Homo sapiens: one gene and its partners. The protein of the gene in region 2 interacts with the protein of the main gene of each other region in a pairwise test. Each region holds a gene or a part of one and is shown on either strand. Other genes may lie near its edges.

Region 1 (3,449 bases), on a different chromosome or scaffold from region 2:
TAAATAAAATAAAAAAATAAAGGTTTTGACTCTGGTAATATGCTCCTGCACAGAGGTTGCCTGCTTCCTCACCTGCCCATTAAACTTAGGTGCTTCCCTACCTTCACTCCACCTGCACAGAGTCCCTGTGGCATTCCCCACTCCACCTTTCCCCAGCATGAACAAAGAGGTTCTGTCTTCCTGACCTGCATAAATGCTCCAGGAGGTACCGTAGAGTGTCATGGTTGGGCTTTGGCATTGAGCCTATTAATTCTTGTATCTGAGAGAGGCACTGCTCTGATTCGGAGAGTGCTAGAGAGAGTGATGGGAAAGGCATGGTAGTAAGGTTAGGGAAGGTGCTAGGACAGGATGGGTAAATGCACTGCTCTTTCCCACAGGCATGGAAGACATCATTAATCTAGCACAGCTTTCTTTTTCACATAGCCCAACTATAGCCTCATAATTCTTTTCAATTCAGCCCTCTAAACATTCACAAAAAAGCAACTGGAGTAGGCACCTGAGTTGAACATTATTTTCCATCTCTAAAGTCAGAATGGGAAAGAAGAGTATAAGGGAACCTCTATTCTATTATTTACCACCCGTGTCCCCCACATCAAGGGTTCTTTCCAAAGCTCCAACCCTTACCAAGGGCAGCACGGAAATGGGGCAGCAGCAGTGGTGGCACCAGAGGCTGGGGCAGCTCCCGGAGAAAAAGCTTCAGGGCTCCGGTGACCACATGAATGTCATCCCACTCAGTACTGTCCAAATCTAACCGACCTTCTGGAGGGAGAAGGAGGTATAGGGGCTCATGAAGGGCCAGAAAGATTTAGAGACTGAGAGATTAGAAGTTCTGGAGAAATCCAGTCAAAGCAGACTATAGGAATGCCTAGAGGGTCTGCAGTGGGGCAAGGTAGCTAAGGTGGGGATGAGGACAACCCTCCCAGGAATAGTACATGGGGGTTTCCACGGGAAGCAAAGAGGATATGTGGAAGTTTTAGGGATCTGAAGGGTCTTCCATGTAAGTACCTTGTCCTGGCTGTTCTGGGAACACATACCTCCCATCGGAGGTGACCGCACGCTCTGCAACATGAATGAGGAGAGATCAGGAGCTAAGACATACACTTCCAGCCTGACGGCCTCTCTATTCTGCCAGCTTCCTCATGTAGGACCGCCCATGGTTCTCAGGCAAGACATTCTTAGTACAACCACTGGCCCACAAGCCTTCTCACCTCTGTCCACCAGAAAGCGAAGCTTCTGGACCACTGCCAAGTTCCCGCTCACCCGATAAATGCCATCCACATCTAGACCTGGGAGATGAGGAAGGAGTAGATAAGGACTGCTGCTTGAAAGTGTGTGTGGTGAGGGATATAAGGGTGGAGAGAAAAAGGGCAGTAGGAAGACTAGGTAGAATGGGGGAGGCAGAAAATTCTAGGCCTTAGCCTGTTGGAAGAGGATTCTGGGGTCTCTGAGAAAATGACCTCTTTTATCCACAGCAGCAATGCAGAGCCGCAAAAAGCTGGGCACCGTGTCTCCTTCCCGCTGGCAGAGTGATTCCAACTGGCAGCCGAACACCTGGTCTGGGGAAGTAGAGTGAGGCGGGAAGCCAGTGCCAGCGTCACTCACAGGAGCTCTTCTCAGCATAGGTCTTTATCCTTAAGTGAGGCTGGTCCTCCTGGCTGCCTGTGCCAGGCCTGGGCAAGGAAATACACTCCACCTCCCTTCCCCTGCTTCAAACAATCTGGCAAAGGGGTACAGGTCACCCCAGCTTCTCCCCTAAACAATCTGGGGTAGTGGGAAAGCAGCAGTCACAGAAGGTTGTGGTCTAGTTCTGGGAAGCTCTACTCTGAGCCTCGCTGGAGTTTTCTTATCCATGAACCTGGCCCAGCCCCCTCACCTCGGAGCAGACCCCGCTCCTGCAGGCTTTGTAAGGGCGGTCTCTTCGCGATGAGCCGCTTTAGTTTGTTGCGCACGCGGTTCTGCTCGGTGCCTTCGGGCCCCCGAACTGCAGGAGGCAGGTAGAGCGGGGCGTGAGCGCCCGGGAGCCTCGCTGCGCTCCCGGACTCTCCCTCCCCAGCCCGCGCCTCACTGGAGCTCCGGCGGCTGCTGAGGCGCAGCAGCGGCTTGGACACCAGCTCCGACTCCTCTTCTTCGTCCTCCCCGGCGCTCAGCTCCGCGGGTCCAGAGCCCGACAGACGCAGCTCCAGGGGGTTCTCCCGATCCTAGACCCGGGGCGGGCCGTGTCGAAGGTGAGAGAGGAGAGAAATCTGTATCCCTAGCTGGACTCTGACCCACTGCCGGGGTCCCACATCCCGGCCCAGGCAAGGGCTCTCCACTGAGCCCACCCTGCCCCCAACTGCTCCTGACTCCTATCGTTCCTACCCCACTCCCTTGGTCCCGGCCGGTCGGAGCCTCCCTCCGGGCCTCCACCCATCTAACCAGCCGCTCGATGACAGTCCGCAGCGCGCGGTGCCAGGCTCGCAGCTCTGTCTCGTGGTCCGACTGCAGCAGGAACTCGTGGCCAGGGATCGTGCGGATCTGAGGGCCAGGCAAGGAAACGCTCGGGTCAACGGGAAGGAGTATAATAAGCAGGGAGACCTAGCGGGAGGCCTGCGCGGGAGATTGGGGGCGCCCTCGGGTCGGGTGGGGCCTTGGGGACGCGCGGGAGGGCGCTCACGTGCAGGACGTTGCGGCGGCTGGACAGGTGGCGGCCGTGCGCCAGGGCCGCCCCGCGCAGGTCCACGCTACTTTCGGGCCGGCTACCCGCTGGTCCCTGACAATGAGGGAGGAAACTGAGGCCACGGTGTTGTTTCCTTCACTGCTTCCCTCTCCCCGGTGGGCTGTGAGGAGGTGGGAGGCTTCCTCACTTCTTTACTTTCCTCTGCACCGCCCTCCCCGCTGCCGCCCCCACATTGGCGTGAGGCGGTAGGCAGCGCCCGCACCCATCCTGCGCCTCTCGCTCACACTCACCCAGCCTGAGGAGGGCGCTGTCGGCGGTGGCTCTCGGTAGAACACCAGGCTGTTACCCGTTAACACCACCCAAGACGGGCCCCAGTTCTTCCTGCGGGGACAGAGAGGGGAGGTAGTGGTAGCGAACAGGTCATTCTAGAATGACACGAGGAGGGTGCTCTTCCAACACCCTGCTCTACCCTATGGAGTTGACAGCCCAGGCCCTAGCTGTATTCTGGGTTCTCACCTGAGCTTGCGCCCCCCTTGGGCAATCTTGGTCATGTTGAGCAGACCCGACTTTTCCACCTCCTGGGAAGTGGAGGGAATGGGATCTGTAAGTCACCCTCGCCCTCCATAGTGGCCACGGCTTTCCCTAGGGGGTCTCCCAGGAGTGAAGTCCCTTAAAGTTGCTGGGGGAGGGCTGGGTAGGAGGATATTCAGAAAGAGGAAGATGTTTATGTGGAGCAGGAAAAGGGGGGAGGGGGGGCAGGGAGGATCTTGGCCTTCACAAAGAAATGGGAGAT
Region 2 (5,302 bases):
CTCACTCAGTCGCCCAGTCTGGAGTGCAGTAGTGGCGTGATCTTCGCTCACTGCAGCCTCCGCCTCCCAAGTAGCTGGGATTACAAGCGTGTGTCCCCATGTCCACTTAATTTTTGTATTTTTTAGTAGAGACAGGGTTTCACCATGTTGGCCAGGCCAGACTTGAGCTCCTGATCTCAAGTGATTCACCTACCTTGACCTCCTAAAGTGCTGGGATTGCAGGTGTGAGCACCCAGCCTCAAGATGCTCTTTTGAACTTTAATTCCAAGAATATTAGATAAAGTGATGTAGGCTATATTTTGCTTATGAGTTTTTATATTACTGTATCTGAAAATGTAGAAATTTCACTTCACAAATCAAAATAGACATTATTTATATGATTTATATTAGTGGATGACAAATTTAATTGAAATAGATCTCTGAGGTATTTGTTAAGAGAAACAGATTTATAAGTATTGGTAAATTTTTTAAGTGTCTTTTATTGTTTCCTCTGAGGTAGGTTTAATATGTGCACTTAAGTTACATTTTCATGATATTAACTGTGTCCAGTTTTAAATTTTAAAATTTGTGGGCTGGGTGCAGTGGCTCATGCCTGTAATCCCAGCACTTTGGGAGGCCGAGGCGGGTGGATTACTTGAGGTTGGGAGTTTGAGACTAGCCTGGCCTGGCCAACATGGTGAAACCCCGTCTCTACTAAAAAACAAAAATTAGCCAGCTGTGTTGGCGGGCACCTGTAATCCTAGCTACTCAGGAGGCTGAGACAGGAGAATCACCTGAGCCCGGGAGGCAGAGGTTGCAGTGAGCTGAAATCGTGCCACTGCACTCCAGCCTAGGCGACAGAGCGAGACTCCGTCTCAAAAAAAAAAAAATAAAATTTGTGTATGTACAATGAAGGATTACTTGATTTTTTTGTGTGATATATTCACTTCATTTCTAATATTATAAAACCTTATTTTTGGAACAAATAAACAGGAATGATGGGAGGAATAGTATATGAGACCTTACTGACTGGTTCTTGGGAGTGATTGTTAACATGGGTTGCAATCCACTTTTATTTTTTTATTTTTATTTATTTATTTTTTTGAGATGACATCTTGCTCTGTCACCCAGGCTGGAGTTCAGTGGCGCTACCTTGGCTCACTGCAACCTCTGCCTCCCAGGTTCAAGCAATTCTCCTGCCTGAGCCTCCCGAGTAGCTGGGATTACAGGTGCCCACCACCATGCCTGGTTAATTTTTGTATTTTTAGTAGAGAAGGGGTTTCACTGTGTTGGCCAGGCTAGTCTTGAACTCCCGACCTCAAATGATCTGCCCACGTCGGGCTTCCAAAGTGCTGGGATTACAGGCGTGAGCCACCGCACCCAGCTGCGATCCACTTTTAAATGGATTTGTGGAAAAAGCACAGATTATCATTAAACTAAGCGGCATTTAGGTCACACATCTCATTCATCTGATCAGTGATCTGACAACCTGATGGGAGAGTCACATCTCCTAGGGTTTCAGGAATCAGTGGGAGAGGCACGCTATGAAAGGGCATGTGAAGGAAGGCTGTGTTTTTGTGTCTGCAGGTGTGCACTTGTACTACGTCGGGGGAGAGGTGTATGCCGAGTGCGTGAGTGACAGCAGCATCTTTGTGCAGAGCCGGAACTGCAACTATCAACACGGCTTCCACCCAGCTACCGTCTGCAAGATCCCCAGCGGCTGCAGCCTCAAGGTCTTCAACAACCAGCTCTTCGCTCAGCTCCTGGCCCAGTCAGTTCACCACGGCTTTGAAGTCGTGTATGAACTGACCAAGATGTGTACTATCCGGATGAGTTTTGTTAAGGTAAGGAGTGCTTGCTATCACGTTATAAAATGTTCAGTGAAAAACAAAACAAAAAAGCACCCTGACTGATGTGGCAGGCAGTTGTGCGGTCAATTCTGATAGACAAAACCAATTTATTATTATTATTATTTTTTGAGACGGAGTTTCACTCTGTCACACAGGCTGGAGTGCAGTGGCATGATCTTGGCTCACTGCAACCTCTGCCTCCCGGGTTCAAGCGATTTTCCTACCTCAGCCTCCCGGGTAGCTGGGACTACAGGCACGCACCACCACGCTTGGCTGATTTCTGTATTTTTAGTAGAGACAGGGTTTCACCATATTGGCCAGAGTGGTCTTGAACTCCTGACCTTGTGATCCTCCCATCTTGGCCTCCCAAAGTGCTGGGATTACAGGCGTGAGCCACCGCGCCCAGCCCAAAACCAATTTTTTTGAATTCTATTGTTTTTAGGAGGAGTTCCTCTTTGAGTATAAACTGTCTTGTTTAGCAATTATATGAAAATTGTTACACATTACTTTTGAGGAAAAACAAGGTGGCTATTTGATTGTTTTTAATGCAGATGATAAAGTAACAACAGTAATTTTACAGGACTAGTGCAACAGAGATTTTTTCCATCCTTCCAATTGCCAAGCACTGTTATCACTCAGTGAATGTTGGTGAATTTATCTGAATTCAGTAAGATACTCTCCTTACTCTTAGAAAGCATACAGGCACATGGAGGAGATAATATTTATGAATAAGCTACAAAAATAGGCAGGGTTGGTTCTAATACAAGATAATAAACTAAGTAGTGTTATAAAGGTATAAACAATTTGGAATAGAAACGGGTGTGATTAATTCAGAGAGCAGTATATGTTCTGTTGATGAATATTTGTTGAATTTCTCATATCGAATCTTATTAAGGTTGCTATGAAGGCTGGAGAACCAAGGAAGTTTCTTAGTGGGAAGGAAAGACAACTGGGTTTGTATATGGAAGTGAAAGCCTTCAGTTTCATCACCTGCTATTTTGTCTGTTGCAAAGTACTCGCAAATGAGTCTAGTATTTCAAAATATGGGCTTATCAAAGTATCGGGGTATGTGTGACAGTTTTCTTACTGCCATGATTCCATCCAGGGAATCAGCATGGCTTGTTCCAGGCATTTTTTTCAAAGTAAATTTTATTAGCACTTTAAAATTACCATGACAAATAATTTTTCTATACTCAAATTATGTTTTTATTATCACTTTAGTAATTATTTAAAAAGTAAGAACAATATAGTTTCCAATTTTAAAAAACAGCTGCTTGAAATTATTTCTCTTTCATGGTGACAAAGCAGTTTCATTCAAATTTAGTGTTTTGAAAGCATATATTATAAAGTTATATTAACAAATAACTTCGAAATCTTTTCAAATGTTCTGTTGCTTTAGAAACGGCAGAGGGCATCATTTGAATCATACAGTTTTTTTTTTTTCCGGGTCTGTGTTTTTAAAATTAGGATGAAATGCCAATATCTCATAGGTAATTATTTCACTCTGATTAAATATAAGCTTATATAGAAATCTGATTTTCCTAATAACTAGATACATTTCTCAGATAGGCAGCATTTACATTCATAAAGCTACACAATTGACACAGAAGACAAACTGTTCCTAATACTGCAGGAACTTTTAAAATAAATACATAGTAAATATAACTATAGATCATTTTTTTTTAACATTTGAGATGAGCAGCTGTAGCTACCACTGGGCTGATGGATCAGATCTCTTTAAGGTTTCTTTCAGCTCTGATTTTTACTGATTCTAGGACTTAGTCAGTCAACAAATGTTTATTGAGCACCTGCCATGTGCAGGCCAGGCACGTGGGACATGCCAATGTTTACTCACAGATCTCTGACCTCAGGGAACCAATATTCTAGGAAGGAGAGATGGATAATAAACAACAGCCAAAACACAGAAGAAGGATGGAAAGAGAAAGTCTGGGGGCAGGGTGAAGGGAATTGGAGCACGGGGGCAGTGGAGTCATCTGCACATGAGGGTGGGCCTCATTGAAAAGGTGACAGGTCAGCAGAGACTGGAAGGAGACATGGAGCTAGGCCCAGGGACCCCTGGAGGAAGAGCAGAAGAAGAGGGAAGAGCAAGGCAACAGCATACACCTGGAAACTCTGAAGAGCAGGCAGGCCAGTGTGGCTGGGGCCTAATGAGCAGGGGAAGTGAGATGAGAGCAGCCGCAGGGAACCATAGCAAGGCCTCCTGAACCTCTGCTACGAGTTCAGCGGTGACTGTAAGGAGGTGGCGAGCTTTTGCAGGGATCAGAGCAGAGCATTTTCATGATCTAACTTCTATTCTTAAAGGATCGCCCTGCCTGCTGTGTGGAGGATAGATATTATACAGGCAAGGTTGCAAGTAGGGAAACCACTTAGGAGGCTATAGTAATAGTCAGGTGAGAGTCGCCCCCACCTGGAGGGATCCAGTACAGCTGTGAGAAGTGGAAGGATTCTGAATTGTGAAGGCGGATCAGGCGTGGGAGAAAAAGAGGAAGATGAAGTTAGTTGCCTTCAATCAAGATGGAGAAGACGCAGGTGTAATTGAGATGTCCGTTGCATTCAAGTGGAGTTGCTGAGTAGCCAGTTCGATATAAGAGTCTGGATTCGGGGAGAGAGGTTTGGGCTTGAAATACAAATTTGGGAATTGTCTGCAAAGGGACCGTATTTAACTCCCTAAGTGTGGATGAGAACACCAAAGGTTTGAGTTTAAACTGAGAAGAGCCGGGCGTGGTGGCTCATGCCTGTAATCCCAGCACTTTGGGAGGCTAAGGTGGGTGGATTGCTTGAGGTCAGGAGTTCAAGACTAGCCTGGCCAACATGGCAAAACCCCATCTCTACTAAAAATACAAAAATTAGCCAGGCGTGGTGGCGCGTGCCTGTAATCTCAGCACTTGGGAGGCTTAGGCAGGAGAATCGCTTGAACCTCGGAGGCAGAGGTTGCAGTGAGCTGAGATCGCACCATTGCACTCCAGCCTGGGTGACAGAGCCAGACTCCATCTCAAAAAAATTAAAATAAATAAATAAGAAAGGGGGCTCTAGGACTGAGCCCTGGGACACTTCAACATTTAAAGATGGGACAGAAGGGACAGAATCAGCAAAGAAAACTGAGAAAGACCAACCAGTGAGGTAGTAATAAGACCAAGAAGTGTGGTGCTTTGGAAGCCGAGAAAAGACAGTGCATTGATGAGAGGATGTGATGAACTAAATCAAATGCTGCCCACATAACACAAAGGCTGAGAGCTGATCATTCATTTTAACAATATGAAGGCCTTTTTTGATCTTGACAAGAAAAGTTTTGTTGGCGGCTGGGGTGAGATGATGATCAGAATGGATTTAAGAGAGAATGGAAGGAGACAAATTGAGATGGCTAGTATGGATGACTCTTCTGAGGGTTTTTGCCAGAAATGGGATAAAAACATAGGGCAGTAGCTGGTGGGGGGTGGAGAAGTATCTTGAAG
Region 3 (4,370 bases), on a different chromosome or scaffold from region 2:
AACTTATTACAACTTTATTTTGATTGCATAAAGTTCTGCTTTTACTTCACCCTTCCCACATACATTTCATGTTTTTGATGTCACAATTTGCTTTTTTATATTGAATACTCCTTTGCCTTAGTTCTTTACACTATAAAAGAAGAAAAGGAATAATTGAGTTTTGCTTTGAGAACATCAAGTTCCTTTGGCCTTATTTTAGGCTCAATGAGAAACCTTTTGATACATAACTTGGGGCAGGTAGCATCACTGGCTCTGGAATCACAACTCTGAATTCCACCTGCTCTGCTACCTCTTTGGTAGGTTACCTTGGTGAAATTACTTATCACCTCTGAGCCTCAGCTTTCTCATCTGTCAGCTGGGGTTGAGACTGTCATATAGCTGCGGCAGGCATCCAAGCAATGATGACTTAATGGTTCAACCACTTCCCTCAATTTTATCTCCTGACACCTTCATCAGGAAGCAGTACCCTTGTAGCCCAGGTCTTGGGAGAAGTTATATAATAAAAGCTAAGCTAGCATTTCTGGGGTATTTGCCATGTGCCTCAATGGCACATAGCAAATGTTTACATGTATTATTTCCTCTTCATAACAGTTCTGTTTATAAAGAAACAGAGGCTTAGAGAGGTTAACTGATTTGTTGATTATACGTAGTACATGGCAGAAACAAGATCTATTTTCTATTTAAGAGTTAAAAATTTCTATTGGCCAGGTGTGGTGGCTCATGCCTGTAATCCCAGCACTTTAGGAGGCCAAGGCAGGCGGATCACCTGAGATCAGGAATTCGAGACCAGCCTGGCCAACATGGTGAAACCCCATCTCTACCAAAAATTAAAAAATTAGCCGGGCGTGGTGGTGGGTGCCGGTAATCCCAGCTACTCGGGAAGCTGAGGCAAGAGAATCACTTGAACCTGGGAGACGGAGCTTGCAGTGAGCCAAGACAGCACCACTGCACTCCAGCCTGAGCAGCAAGAGTGAAACTCTGTCTCAAAAAAAAAAAAATTTCTACCTAGTTTATGTATCTATTTCCTGTGGGTTTGGTTAGTATCAGTCCATGAGAGCCTGACGATTCCATTGCACTGAGAAAAGGATCATCTGAGTATGTAAGGTGGAAACCTAGGTGTCTGGGTGTGGCGACCTCCTGTGGCAGTTGGTTCAATGATATACGAAGTCCCATGGCCAAAAACTGAGTACTATTCTCTTTGGCAGCCCAGCGCCTGTCACGGGAGCATATGGGTGGCTGGGCTGCTCTGAATACAGCTGACAATGGAGCTGCTTATCTGAATTAAGGAGGGTTGTCACAGGCAGGATTCCTGACTTTGAGCTAATAAAATTGTGACAACAGGGCTCGAAATGTCCTCCATGACTTGACAGACTGAGAGCCAGCCAGCCAGGAGACCTGCAGAACTTAAACACGGAGCATTTATTGTTAGAAAGGGCAAGTCTTACACTCAAATAGGTTTTAACATGAACACATTAAAGGGAGATGGCCCTGGCCCCCACAGTGTCTGCTCTCTCCAAGGCATGCTTCAGTTATACTGCAGCCTGGCCAACCACTGTTCCCTGTAGAAGTTGAAGTTCCTCTGTATTATCCAGCAGCTGGAGGAGACGGAGTATGGCAGACTCTGGAATGCCATTTGTGTGAGTTCCACCTACTTTCTAGGCTTCAGGGTAAATGGAAAAAGTCGCAATAGGCGAAATGTATTTCCTAAAAAGCTGGACAGAGGTATGTGACATTCCTTTGCTTAACAAGCAAAACAAAATCAATGAGTCTGGTGAACTGACGCCATGACAGCAATGTGGAGAAGACTGGGAGTCTACACTGGGAATGGTGCTGTGGACGCTCTGGGCACAGAAGCCCAATTTGGAACCTCTTCTCAGAAGCGTGGGAGGTGGTGGAGGCCAAGCCCACCAGAGGCGGGGCCTCTCCCCAGCTGCCTCGGGATCATCTCTGGTTCTCCTGGGCCAGGCTCCATGGAGTCATCAATCCTCAGTCACAGGTGGAGGAATGAGCTGCAGCTGGAAGTTCTCATTCTGGAAGATGCTGTTGAAAGCAGGAGCACTCTGCGAGCCACTGAATGGCCTATAGCTCTCGCTGCTGCGATTCTGGGAGAGTTCCGTGAGGAGAGCCAGCTGCAAAGGAAGGACACACATCAGCTAAGGTTTGTGGGGAGCAGAGGGAAGAGAGGCTCCTGAATCCACTGCTTCAGATACATGAGAGACAGTGCTGTGTTGCAGGAGTAGTAACATGCAGGGTTTGAATCTTAGGTCCATATATCACAAACGAGCAGTGTGACTTTGGGCAAGTTCACTTCATTTTTTAGGGTCTAAATTTCCTCATTCAATAATGAGACTGGACTGGTTTGCTCCCAAGGGCACTCAAACTGTGCTCTCTCTGGCACTGGAGAGCTCTCCCACCCTGGGCTGGCCCTGTGCTGAGGGCTCCTCCAGCTGCTGTGGATGGCCCTGCTGCCACCCTTCTCTCCCTGTGGACGCGCCCTGGGCTGAGGAGCTCTGTTCTCAGCTCTGCTTGTTCCAACCTCTCCATCTTGGTGCACTCTCCTCGGGGTGAATGACTAATTATGACCACTGGCTCTGACCTCTCTTCTGTAACCTGGAAGGCCTCAAACAGACACCCAGCTGCCAACTCAAACTCAGGGGTTCCAGAGTGGAACCCCTGGATTCTACCTTCTCCTTCAAGTGAGTCCTCTTTGCTCCCAGCTTCCTTATTCCCACCAATGACACTAGCAGTACCCTCGTTCTGTCAGTGGCTCAATTCTGGAAGACCTGCCAAGGAGGACAGAAGGGTAGGAGGAGATGCTAATGTCGGCCTGTTGGGAAGCCAGTGCTCTGCCACTCAGGGGGACCATCCCTTTCACCTAAAGAGGCTTTCTGCGAAAGTAGGGAGCTGGCAGCCTGGCTCTTGAGGTGCCCTTGATGGTCAGAGGAGAGACGAATTCTACACCCAAGGTCCTTAGACTTCCTGCCTGATTAGGGTCTTTGCCTGTTGCTTCCCAGAACATTGTGAGTTAACTTCCACCCCACAGAGCTAATGTGAAGGAGAACTCAGAGCCCAGGTCAAAATGGTCCCTAATAACAGTAGTTGGGACCTGTGGGATGGGCCACTGTGTCCACTACCAACACTCTAAGGGACCCTGTGTAGGCTCACATGGAGGCCAGTGAAAGCCTGGTCCATGGGGAGTGTACAGCTGAGACGAGGGGGCCATCAGACTCCTCAGGGCAGCCCTGTCTGTGTCTACCAAACACTCCAGGAGTCCGAGGGGATGTCTAACAACCTCTGGTGACTGTATCAAGTGTCTTTCCATGACAGGCACTTTGCTAGATCCTTGACATGTGTGTTATTTCTCATCCTTCACAACACAGTGACTTGCCCTCGGTCACCAGCAGTGAGTGGCGGTGTGGGATTCACCCGCCAGGCACCATGTCTTCGAGGTGCCCTCCGACCTCTGGCAAAGGGTTTTTCCCTCACACAGGCAATGGTGGCACAAGCTCACGTGTCCATGTGTCACTTCTGTGGAAAACTCAGTACCAGTGGCTGTGGTAACTGGGAAGACATCTGAAGGCCCCTAAGTTCTAAGTGTCAATTTATCAAAAGTGGTCCAGGTCCTGGCCCAGAGACACATGTATGGTCTCATTCACAACTCAGTAACTCTGACTCAAGCACTACTCCAGGGGCCAAGAGTCCACTTCGTGCCACTTCCTTCTTCCGTAACCCTCTCAGTTGCCCATCAGCCTGCGACGTTCTCTGCAATGACTGTTATGTACGATGCCTTGAACAGAATGAGCCACAGACGCTCAACTCAATGCTTTCACATCCTGACACTGTGAGGTGGGAAGATCAATTGCAAAAAAAAAAAAAAAAAATTATTTCCCAGGAAAACAGATATTTTTGTGTTCCACTTTGGTAACTTTGTGATCCGGAAATCAATGAGCCTTAAATAAGGGCTCAACAGTTTGAAGCAGAAGAACCTCCTTGGAAGGCCCAGAAACCCAACTCCTGGGGCAGAGCTTAGCTGAGGCTGGAAAGGGATGGGGGTGAGGCCAGTTCAATAAAGCTGCTGGACTGCATCCAGGAGACCCCTAGAGAAACTTCCTGGAATAACAACCTCTGCCCACACCAACTCTCAAAGAAGGAGCACCACTCTTTCCTCCGGCTGCCAAGTAACCTAGTAGGTTCTGCCTAAGAAAGGGGAGTGCGTGAAGGGGGCCCAGGTAGAGAAGCAGAGGACACAGCAGTTTGCACAAGCTCGAGACAAGCTCAGGAACAAATGGGACCACCTAGAATTGAGGTGTGATTTGGGGAGTGAAGAAGATGGTAGGGTTTGGACTCATTCTTTAGGTGGTGGAGATCCA
Region 4 (4,400 bases), on a different chromosome or scaffold from region 2:
CCCACCACCACACCCGGCTGATTTCTTTTTTTGTATTTTTAGTAGAGATGGGGTTTCACCGTGTTAGCCAGGATGGTCTCGATCTCCTGACCTTGTGATCCGCCTGTTTCGGCCTCCTAAAGTGCTGGGACTACAGGCGTGAGCCACCGCGCCCGGCCCGCTGTTTTTTTCTAACATTTGCTGAATTCTTACTAAGCATTTCATCAAGTTATCTAATTTAATCCTCATAAAACCCTCTAATTATTCCCATTTTAGAGATGAGGAAACTGAGGAGGGGAGAGGTTAAATCATTTGTCTAAGGTCATACGGCTAGTAACCAGTAGAGCCCGATTCAAATCTAAAGCCTATACCGTGAACCACAGTTCTGTCTTCCCATTAGTTCACAGTCAGAAAATGGTGGTAACACTAACCCCCATCTTGCAGGTTCTTGTGAGAATCAAATGAAACAACACAAGTGAAAGCATTTTAAAACTGTCAAATGATATCCACATATTAGTCACTACTTTTCTTTTCACTGGATAACCATAAATGTAATTTGAATCTCCCCCATTGGTTCATTAGAGATGGAAGTCTCCACTCTTAGCAATGCATTTTTTTTGGCAGAAGTTCCCAAATGGACCACCTGCACCAGGATAATTGGGTGGCTTGTTAAACTTGCAAACTCCTAAACTTCAATCTAGACCTACTGCCTCAGAATCTCTGGGGGATGACTCCTGATTCTGCCTGCCCCAAGGTGACAATGGTATACACTGAGGCTTCAGAAGCACCAGAATGGGCCACTTAAAATGCTACTGTCCTCTTCTGTAGCAGTAAGTTAGGTCTCTGGAACTTAGGTCTTTGTGGCCAAGGCCTGTGGAGCTTTCAAGGTTTCCCAATTTTGAAATCACCAAATACACAGAGAAACTTTGAGTAGACAGAATTTCTATTTGTCTGGAAGTGTCTTTAAAGCCACTGTTCCCTTACTTTATTGTAACTGATGGGCTTAAAATAACAAAATGAGTTAATTTGTGTCCTGCTACAATCCTGAGACCTGTGGTGAGCATGATATGTCACCCCAGTTCTGCCAAGGACCCCACAGTAGCCCAGAAGGCTAGACCAGTGGGTAGGATACCAGGCTCCTCCCTGGGTTAAGGGGGGTCAGATTGGGATCCCAGTGAGAATTAGCTCATTCAGGTGAATTCTTAATGAGGTCCTGGGTTGGACAAGAGTGGGACCCATAGGAACAGTCTGTTACAGAAGAAAGCGCCTCCCAGGTCTAAGACTGGAGGGAGCTGAACTGAGGAAAAGGTTGCGACAAATGGAGACACTGAAAGTGGAGAGGGAGATGCTGAAAGGAGAGAGAGAAGCTTTGCAAATGTTCCCTCCATTGACTGAGCTCCTCAGAGTGGGCAGCGTGTGGACTTTGCTCACCAGCATATCCCCAGGGCCCAGCCTCAAAATATTTGTTGTATGAATGACGCCTGAAAGAGAAGAGCATGGGTACCTGTCCCACCAGTGGCATGGAGCATTTTCAAGTGATCCACCGTCATCTGCAAGACCTCGGCTTTCTCCAGCTTGGAAGAGCCCTGCGGGTACAGAAGACAGAAGGGTGGAGCCTGCAGCTGACCATGTAGCTGTGCGGTGTCATCAGCACTCACTGTCTCGATTTTCTCACCTTCCTCCCACTCCACTGCTGCCTGCAAATGGGCTTCTGCTTTGGCCAAGTTCTCCAAATCTAGAACATTCTTTTCAGTTCTCCTCTCAGACCATCTGTCCACTGTACAGCTGCCGATCATCTTTCCTGAAACCACTCCTCCCTTGACTTGCACGACACCACTGTTTCTGGGCTCTCCTTTCACCATGCCTCTTGATCTGCCGTCTCTTAACACAGTACTGTCCCTTCTGTGTCACTTCGCATTCTGCTGCTCCCTGCAGAGAGGCTTGTCACCTCCATGGCTTTAGCCACCATCCTCAGAATGCCTCTTAAACCAGCTCTTCAGGGAATCCAACTTCAGACTCAATGTGCCCAAGATCTAGCTCATCATCTTATCCCCAGACCACTTGTTCTTCCTCTTTTCTCTCTTGGGAAATGCTTCCTAAGCTTTCCAGGTGAAGCCTGAAGATCAGAGGCTCCATGGGAGTCCCTTGAGGGCAGATACTAGGTCTAGTTCATGGCTGGTCCTGTGATGGTTTTAGTGAACATCTGTGGGATGACTGACTTGTTCTCACCAGCATAAAGGAAGGCAGAGGACCCGTGACCTATGCCTTGGTGCATAGGGTGAGAATTTCTGAGGCTGAGTCCACTGTCTGATTCCCCGCTGTAGTTCCCCCACCTAACATGCTCAATGGTAGAGTGCTCACTCCCTGAGCAGCCTTTTCCACTTTCAAGTCACTCTAGAAATGTCTGTAGTGCAGAGGGATGAGGGCTTGAGAATCACACAGTCCTGTGCCCTGCTATTTACTAGCTGCGTGATCTGGTGTAAGTTACTTCACCTCTCTGTGCTTCAGTTTCTTTACCTGTGCCATGGGCATAATAATCCCTAACCTTTGGGATCATTTTGAGGAGTCAATTCAATGGGATGATAGACATAAAGACACCTGAGACACCTAAGTATAAATTTCCATTCCTTTTACCCTGGCCAGTGACAGATATTGGTAAATGATCACAGCATCTCAGGCAGCTGCTACCAATCAACAAGAGATGCCATGAGAAACGAACCTTATCTGCCACCCACACAGTATTTCCTCTAGCACAATCAGCAATGTCACATACCTGTTTCTCAAAGGCAGTGGGGACCAAGCGTCGCAATTCAGAAAGGCTACTGTTGATGCGGTCTCGACGCCGTTTCTCTATGATCTAAACAATCATGACAAGAAGTTACTCACAGGTGTGTCATCACAGTTTCCAAAGTGCCTTGATGGTCATCAACTCATATTTACCCACACAGTATTTTTGTGAGGGAGATCAATCTAGTCTTACTTTATGGTGGAGAAAACCAAGGCCCAGAGAAGGACAGTGATTTGCTTAAGGTCACACAGCAAGAAAGCGCAGAGCTGGGAGTACAACTCAGATCTCTTGTCTCGGTCTATAGGGGTGATATTCAAGATGTTTAACCACTGGTACAGCAGGGCACAGCCAATCACAATGAGGACACCAGCCACGGTGCTGGAGCAGGCCCTGGAGGCCCGTGCTGGGCCAGGAGGGTGACCCCGTCATCTGTGAGGTCATGAGATGGTTTGGGGAGTCCCACGTGTTGCTCTCTCTAGCTGCAGGGCCCTTCCACCCACACACTCTCATTCTTCCCTCCAATACTGGTAGCAGAACACCGGGAGCAGGACAGATATGACCCCATTTTACAGATAAGGAAAATGAGGGCTGGAAGGAAGTGGTTTGCCTAAGGGCTTACAGTCAGTGAGTGTCAGGCTGCTCTCTGCCAGACCCCAGGTGTCTGGACTCCCAGTGCAGAAACACAGCTGCATCCTGGGAGGAAAGTGGGGCTGAACATGATGGACAGATGACAGCGGCAAGTGGGGATCCTTCTTCTGTCCCCTCCCCCACCCCGGCACACTGAGGGGGATGAAAGTTCTGGACTCAGAGAGGAGACAGAAGATAGGAACAACAATCATAATGGCCTATTGTGTGTCTGCTATTGTTTAGAGCATTACATTAATGCACTTAATCTGTAAAGCAGCCCTTTGAGGTGGGCCCTCTCATTATTCCAGTTACACAAAGGAGCAAATCAGGCTCAGAGAGGTTAACAGGCTTGCCTGGAATCACCCTGATAGCTAGTGACAGAGCCGGGATTTGAACCCAAGCAGTTAGCTTCATGGTGAAATTTCTGCCTAGGGTTCTCCCCGCCGCCAGACTGCAGGGGATTCATGGCAACCCTTTGTTGGTCAACTCAGAGGCTGAGACGGACACTCACCCCTCTGTGTTTCTTCCTGGCTTGCATCTGCGAAGAGCTGGGGGTGGACAGCGGCCTGGCCATCTGGCTGGAAAGGAAAAGAAAAGCTGATTTTTCAGGGCTGGGGGACAGTCTCCCCGGCCTGGGCCGACCTCGGGCCAGGAGGAGCCACAGGCTGGGCCTAGAAGGAGCAGCTTGCTCTCCCCTTCTTCCTGGGGGCTCATTTCAACCCGGGTCAAGTCCTCTCATGCACTCTGGGCCCACTTTGGGCTCTTGGTCCGGACCTGCTCGGCCTCGCCCTTCGCCCCTCGCTCCTCGCTCCTCGCCCCTCGCGGCGGCCGTCGGGGAACCGCGTACCGCGGCGCGGTGGCTCCGGCTCCTGCAACCCGATCCCCGGGGGCGGGGCGGGCGAGGGCACTGGCCGGCGGCGGCGGGGCTGGGCCGGGCGGGTTGGGTTTCAGAGGGAGCCGCTGGGAACGAGCGTGGAAAGAGCAGATGCCGCTGCTTCCCACGGGC

The links. The genes of interacting proteins can lie anywhere in the genome.
Region 1: the proteins of SMAD9 (region 2) and ARHGAP9 interact in a two-hybrid assay, tested with the Homo sapiens proteins (one large-scale study listed by BioGRID and IntAct).
Region 3: the proteins of SMAD9 (region 2) and VPS8 interact in a two-hybrid assay, tested with the Homo sapiens proteins (one large-scale study listed by BioGRID and IntAct).
Region 4: the proteins of SMAD9 (region 2) and HEYL interact in a two-hybrid assay, tested with the Homo sapiens proteins (one large-scale study listed by BioGRID and IntAct).

The regions. Positions count from the first base shown.
Region 1 is NC_000012.12:57,473,418-57,476,866, forward strand, and holds part of ARHGAP9 (rho GTPase-activating protein 9), read right to left. Parts: exon of another isoform or gene 3,235-3,449; coding exon 3,173-3,234; intron 3,038-3,172; coding exon 2,947-3,037; intron 2,750-2,946; coding exon 2,654-2,749; intron 2,515-2,653; coding exon 2,416-2,514; coding exon of another isoform or gene 2,359-2,415; intron 2,199-2,358; coding exon 2,066-2,198; intron 1,982-2,065; coding exon 1,874-1,981; intron 1,557-1,873; coding exon 1,458-1,556; intron 1,287-1,457; coding exon 1,209-1,286; intron 1,060-1,208; coding exon 1,006-1,059; intron 760-1,005; coding exon 625-759; intron 292-624; coding exon 186-291; intron 1-185. UniProt on the Homo sapiens protein: GTPase activator for the Rho-type GTPases by converting them to an inactive GDP-bound state. Has a substantial GAP activity toward CDC42 and RAC1 and less toward RHOA. Has a role in regulating adhesion of hematopoietic cells to the extracellular matrix.
Region 2 is NC_000013.11:36,849,940-36,855,241, reverse strand, and holds part of SMAD9 (mothers against decapentaplegic homolog 9), read left to right. Parts: intron 1-1,566; coding exon 1,567-1,823; intron 1,824-2,724; coding exon of another isoform or gene 2,725-2,904; exon of another isoform or gene 2,905-5,302. UniProt on the Homo sapiens protein: Transcriptional modulator activated by BMP (bone morphogenetic proteins) type 1 receptor kinase. SMAD9 is a receptor-regulated SMAD (R-SMAD).
Region 3 is NC_000003.12:185,049,635-185,054,004, reverse strand, and holds the end of VPS8 (vacuolar protein sorting-associated protein 8 homolog), read right to left. Parts: intron 2,130-4,370; coding exon 1,980-2,129; 3' UTR 1,401-1,979; downstream 1-1,400. UniProt on the Homo sapiens protein: Plays a role in vesicle-mediated protein trafficking of the endocytic membrane transport pathway.
Region 4 is NC_000001.11:39,628,744-39,633,143, forward strand, and holds part of HEYL (hairy/enhancer-of-split related with YRPW motif-like protein), read right to left. Parts: intron 4,273-4,400; exon of another isoform or gene 4,169-4,272; intron 3,973-4,168; coding exon 3,906-3,972; intron 2,837-3,905; coding exon 2,753-2,836; intron 1,566-2,752; coding exon 1,484-1,565; intron 1-1,483. UniProt on the Homo sapiens protein: Downstream effector of Notch signaling which may be required for cardiovascular development. Transcriptional repressor which binds preferentially to the canonical E box sequence 5'-CACGTG-3'.